Linked DNA regions of Homo sapiens. The protein of the gene in region 1 purifies or fractionates together with the protein of each later gene. This does not show direct contact. Each region holds a gene or a part of one and is shown in the gene's direction. Other genes may lie near its edges.

Evidence for each region.
Region 2: the proteins of CSNK2A2 (region 1) and GPATCH2L purify together in Homo sapiens (affinity purification with mass spectrometry; 7 studies listed by BioGRID and IntAct, with this or other methods). This does not show direct contact.

What each region holds. Positions count from the first base shown.
Region 1 is NC_000016.10:58,157,282-58,160,136, reverse strand, and holds the end of CSNK2A2 (casein kinase II subunit alpha'), read left to right. Parts: exon of another isoform or gene 1-1,783; 3' UTR 1,784-2,230; downstream 2,231-2,855.
Region 2 is NC_000014.9:76,158,409-76,162,063, forward strand, and holds part of GPATCH2L (G patch domain-containing protein 2-like), read left to right. Parts: intron 1-3,655.

The sequences.
Region 1 (2,855 bases):
GGAGGTGGCGGAGAAGCATCGGGCCAGATCAACCGTTAATAACATGCTTCTGAGCTATGTGGATGTATAAATGAAAACACCCCCAACTAGGTATTGTAGAGGCTGGAAAAAGATGTGATGGGATTATACAGGTGATGCATATTTTTGTTTTGAGACTCAACAATGTGCTACAAATGTGATACTTAACCCTGAACTGCATGTATTGGGGATTGTTTTTTAAAAAGAAAAAAAACAACTTTGAATCAATAAATTAACAGTTTTTCACTTGCTGGCTCTTCTTGCTGTAAATGGTGACTAAGAGGTTGGGACAGAAATCTTGACAACTAGTGGAAAACTTGGATAATCTTCAAGGACCATGGAGCCTTCTGTTTCCTTCTGTTTGCAGAAAAGCAACACTGCCTGGGTTGTGATCCTTTACAAGTGACTACTTCAGACACAATTGGCCACCTCTTTGTATCACTGGATGACTGATGTATGATTTATGTGCTGCTGCCCTTAGAGGGAAGAAAAATGCCATGTTAAATCCTGTTTTCTTAAATAAAAATGTTGACAATAACCAGCCTTCCCAAGTGGGAGACAAACCATTGCTATGAGGACCTTAACTTGTATTTCCTGTCTCTTTGGGGGAGAGGGGAGGGATAAACCTTGAATTGCAAAGATGTGTGTTACACCTTGATGTGAAAACTTTCCTTTGGCAGAAGTGGGGCTAGAGTGGTGTCCTGTTGGGAGTGTTCCGTTTTTATGTACTTGCTTCTGAGTCGCGCCACTCAGACACCTGCCTCTTGGGATTGACTGTTTTAGTGCATGACTTTAACCTTGTGGCCTGGTGCTCTGCATTTGTGAAACACTCTCCCTAGCCCCATTCCTTGCAGCACATGCTATTATTTGGCAGGTGGTGGTATCTTTAATTAATGTGCTTTCTTTAATTAGTGTGCTTTCTTCTCACTGAGCCTCTGAAGTTGGGTGCTTGGAATCAGCTGAAGTGTTTAAAGGCAAATATAGTCATTTCTTTCTTAACCTCATGCACCATGCAGCCCTTCTCAAATCAAATACTACGCAGTGGAACCCTTCCTTTACCCAAAGAAAGTTTTCATGAAATGATTTTGTGTGTGTGACAGCTTCCCAGGTGCATAGTCCTTCCTCAGTACTGTAGTGCTGTTCTGGGAGGCACTGCTTCTAGAATTCCACTGCCGGCATCTCACCACCCACTTGCTATGCTGGACCTGGAAGGAGAAATGAGGTTTTCAGGCCATGCCAGGCAGCTAGCTGTTTCCAGGGGAGAGTTAAAAATATTTGAGCTCACTTACTGCTCTTTGTTTATTAGTGGACTCAGCCCTTTTTCTGAGTAAATACAGACCCCGTCTTAGTCCTAAGACACCTCAGATAATCAGGTCAGGTCTGAGGGGGACCTAGAGCTGACTGCTGAATTTGTAGCTTGACTGGCACAGAATGGTCAAGAGGCTCTGAGGCTTCTCCATCAGCACCCTGGACCCGAGGGATGGGGTAGAGTGGAAGACCTGGTCACAACACACGTGGTGCCCAGAGCACCCGTCCTGTGACAGAAGGCCGTGCTAGAGACCATCTCTGTCATGATAATCAGAAGAGGAAGGCAGAGGGTACTGTTGGAAACCTGAACTCAGCGAGTTCTCACAGGGTTCTCCACCAAGTGGCATGGGAGGGCCGAGCTTGCATTCTAGCACAGGCCCTCCTACACGTGGAGGCCTCCCCTCGCCCGCTCAGGTTGATTAATGACGTCTTTCCCTCCTCCCGTCTCTTTCCCCAGGTCTGTTGCGGTTCTCCCACTTTTCCATAAGCAGAACAAGAACCAAATCAAACGTCTTAACGCGTATAGAGAGATCACGTTCCGTGAGCAGACACAAAACGGTGGCAGGTTTGGCGAGCACGAACTAGACCAAGCGAAGGGCAGCCCACCACCGTATATCAAACCTCACTTCCGAATGTAAAAGGCTCACTTGCCTTTGGCTTCCTGTTGACTTCTTCCCGACCCAGAAAGCATGGGGAATGTGAAGGGTATGCAGAATGTTGTTGGTTACTGTTGCTCCCCGAGCCCCTCGACTCGTCCCGTGGCCGCCTGTTTTTCCAGCAAACCACGCTAACTAGCTGACCACAGACTCCACAGTGGGGGGACGGGCGCAGTATGTGGCATGGCGGCAGTTACATATTATTATTTTAAAAGTATATATTATTGAATAAAAGGTTTTAAAAGAAACGTATGGAGAGTTTTCAGTATGGAAAGGGCCGTGAACTGAGGCCTGTGACTCAGGATGAGACAAAAGCGCATTCGTGCCAGGTTCTAACCAGACGAAGCAGGGGAGGTCCCTGGGACAAGGTGGGCCAGTTTTCATTTTTGTTTTTAAACAGTCTTGCTCTGTCATGGAGGCTGGAGTGCAGTGGCGCAACCATAGCTCACTACAGCCTCGGCCTCCTGGCCTCAAGTGATCCTCCTGCTTCAGCCTCCTGAGTAGCTGGGATTACAGGTGCATGCCACCACACCTGACAAGTTTTCTTAAGTTTTTTTTTTGTAGAAATGGTCTTGCCACGTGGCCCAGGCTGGTCTCAAACTCCTGACTCAAGTGATCCTCTTTCCTAGTCCCCCTAAAGTGCTGGGTCTACATAGAGGTGTGAGCCACCACACTCAGCCAAGGAGGGCCCGTTTGTAAGGACTCTCTTCCAGAGCTGAGTGGTGTTAAGAGGTACACAGTGAACCAGTCCTAGGAATGGGGACAATATGGATGGCTGAAGTAGACTCAGCCAGGAAAGTGGGGCTTTGCCTTGAACACATTCCAACTGGCCAGCATCCTCCCTGGCCTCTCCTTCAAATGAGAGTCACCTCC
Region 2 (3,655 bases), on another chromosome or scaffold:
GCTGAGATCTCTGTCCATCACCTCTCACTTTAACTCCCCCAAACTCTTTAATTATGAGTGTGCTTTGCTCCAGGTGTTTGTGACAGTGAAATTGCTAAATGAGGACCATTTTAACCAAAGATTGGGTGATCAATAACACTCTATAGCAGTAGCTTGTTGGATCAATAGCATTCATTATTTCATGGTTAAGGTAAGTAGCCTCCTTTGCAAGTGGAGGTCATTAATCAGGGTTTCCTGGAGCTGTGTAAAAGAATATGTATGGTAGGTGGGGGTGTTCTGTTTTCTATTCTGTAAGTAGGGATGCTGACCAAGAATATATTTACCATTGTTGCAGTTGGTAGTATTGCATGTGAGATTCTCGAATAGCTAGCATAGTGTGCTTATGTGGGTATATTCACAGTTCTGCTAGTATCCTTAGGGACAACTAAAACACACAGCTTGGGAGGTCGATATGATACTATTGTACTTGAAGGTCTATCTCTTGAAAGAAACATCCATCTCGTAAAAGAGTCTACCTCTTAAAAGAAATATTGGGATTGTTCTGTGTGGCTCCACAGGACAGAACTCAGGGATAGAGAGTACAGAGTGTTAAATGTTGCTGCGGTTAAAAAATAAGATTCTAAAAATTAGGACTCTGTAAAAATGAAGTGAATTGTTTCACCATGTAATGCGTAATAACTTCTAGATCAGGTGGGGGGATTCAAACATGGGCTTGATGACCGCTTACTTAGTTGCTGTGGAGTTGAGAAGGTTGAACTGAAGGCTTCTGAGATCCCTTGTAACACTGAGATGCTGCGATTCTTTTCAGTCACAGTCTACTTCCCACCATTGTAATGTCTTAACTGGTAAGTAGCCTCAACTGCCCACTTGAATTCTTGTGGTTCCCACTGGCAGTCATCTTCAAAGATTCATTCTTTCTCTCAACTTTTAGAATGATATTCCCTTTTCTCTTATTTCGCAGAATTTGTTCAAAGGCCTCTTGGTATTTGCCAGCAAGGGTGCATAGATTACCCTTGGTCCCCTTCTCTACTCCCGTGGACATAGGTAACTGCCATTCTCAGATCTACAGCTGGCCAAGAGAATATGCAGAGCCCCTAGCCCAGTGCTCCCAGTGCTACTGGGAGGCTTTTATCTCATACAGCTATGCTGGACTGAGATAGGATCATCTAACCCTCACTGCTTGATTCTGACCCCATTCCAGGAGTGTGCCGTAAATGAAGGTGTAGAAAACACTGCAGTCTCCAGAATGTACTGTCTCCAGAATGCACTTCTCTGCCCATGTCAACTGGAATCTTTGTTCTTGAAGACTATACTTTCTAGGACTCAATACCCTATAACTGCTTCCTACCCTCAAACACAAATACACACAGAAAACACTAAGCTTCCCTATCCAAGTGTATTCTGGGAGTTAGAGCCACCAAATAGAAACTGAAAGATACTCAGGCCGGGCGTGGTGGCTCACGCCTGTAATCCCGGCACTTTGGGAGGCCGAGGCAGGTGGATCACAAGGTTAGGAGATCGAGACCATCCTGGCTAACATGGTGAAACCCCGACTCTACTAAAAATACAAAAAAATTAGCCTTGGCGTGGTGGTGGACGCCTGTAGTCCCAGCTACTCAGGAGGCTGAGGCGGGAGAATGGTGTGAACCCGGGAGGCGGAGCTTGCAGTGAGCCGAGATCACACCACTGCACTTGAGTGCACTCGAGCCTGGGCGACAGAGCGAGACTCTGTCTCAAAAAAAAAGAAAAAAGAAACTGAATGATGCTCAATGGGAAGAGAAGGATAGAACCACACCCTGCCTCAACCTGTAGCTGCCTGATTTTCTGACTGAAACTGGCCTTGCATTTCTGAACTGCAAGGTGACTGTAGAGAAAGGATGCAGGGGCTTGCTATCTACCTTCAGGGCAGGCTCAGCACTTCTAACGTGGGCCTCCATTTCATTGTCAAGTGTGGTTCTATCAGCCTTGTAGTTTGAGGAAATCTTGGCAATAGGCCATCTGTATTCTCTATTGCTACAGAAAAAAATCGCCCTAAAACTTAGTAGCTCTAAACAAAGAGACCAAGTCTGTGAGTATGTAAATATTCCCAGGGAAGAAACCAAAGTGCTGGAGAAGAAGATACAACTGAAGAGAAAAAAGTGTTCTTGAGTTGAAAAATTAAGTCTTAAGATTAAAAGCGAAAATTAATGAGAAGAGACTTCTACTGAGACGGAGATTTTAAAAAAATATTTTATTTTAGTTTTTCTTTTTTTCACATATGCTCAAGACTAAGGAAAGAAAAATCTTAAAAGGGGTTGAAGACTGGGTGCAGTGGCTCAGACATTCTTAGATATGCAGGCCCCAGAATCCATGTTCTTTAAAAATTTACTGTGAGAAGACGTTCCATCTACCTGAAGATGAATCACTGTTAGCTCTAAGAAAAGGGAAGTCTTGAAAGGATGGGTGGACTTCTCTGAGGCACAGCCCCCAGCTCAATAGCAGAGTCCTGAGGAAAATTCTGTCTCTGCAAAGTATACCTGATTGTACTAGTCACAGTATCGAACCTGTCAACCTGCGGAGGTTGCTGCCTTTCATGGCACTGTCTGAATGAAACTGAAAAAGAAATTCTTTTATTATATATTCTCATTACTTATAGGAATAATTTCAGAACTGATGTGAGATATTTCTCTGAATAACCTCTCCCTCAGTCTTGTTTACTACTAGATTCAGAAGTCTGATTACAAAGGGTTACCAGTGTGCCACCTCTACCCTGGAAAAAAACTGGAAAACGATAGAACAAAAATACCTTTGGGCAGTAGATCTAAGAGTGACTTTTTTCCACGTTTTTCTAAATTCTGAAACAACTTTTATTTTTGTTAAGTGCATTATTATTTACTAAGAAAAGTTTTTTAGAATGACGATGTAAGCCATAAACTTTAAGATATCTATTAATTAGATGCAAAAAACACCTCTTATTAAGCTACTTGGTTAATAAGCTCTTAAATGGGGAGAAACAAACCCAGATGGTAATTTATTAATACCAACTTTTGATTGTAGGTGATAAAGTAATTCTGTACCTCCTTATTATAATTGGAACAGGTATAAGTTACTCTTTCAGTTCTCACTTTACAGTCTTCTGTGGTTAGGAGTATGAAAGAATTAGCAAGCTCTCAGATCAGAGGGTGTGCTGTGCTTTTTTCCCACCCCCTGCTCCCCCTGGCAATTTTGGGAATTCAGAGGGGTTTATTTTGTTGAAACTAGAAGCTACTGTTTAGGAAGAAGGGAATTAATTTCAACAAAGAGTTTATAAAGATTCTGTATTATCTGTTGCTGCAGAAAAAATTGCCCTAAAACTTACTAGCTCTAGGACGGGTGCGGTGGCTCATGCCTGTAATCCTAGCACTTTGGGAGGCCTAGGCGGGTGGATCACCTAAGATCAGGAGTTTGAGACCAGCCTGACCAATGTGGTGAAACCTTGTTTCTACTAAAAATATGAAAATTAGCCAGGCGTGGTAGCACAGGCCTGTAATCCTAGCTACTTGGGAGGCTGAGACAGGAGAATTGCCTGAACCTGGGAGGCAGAGGTTGCAGTGAGCCGAGATCGCGTCACTGCACTCCAGCCTGGGTGACAGAGCGAGACTCCGTCTCAAAAAAAATAAACAAAAAAAAACTTATG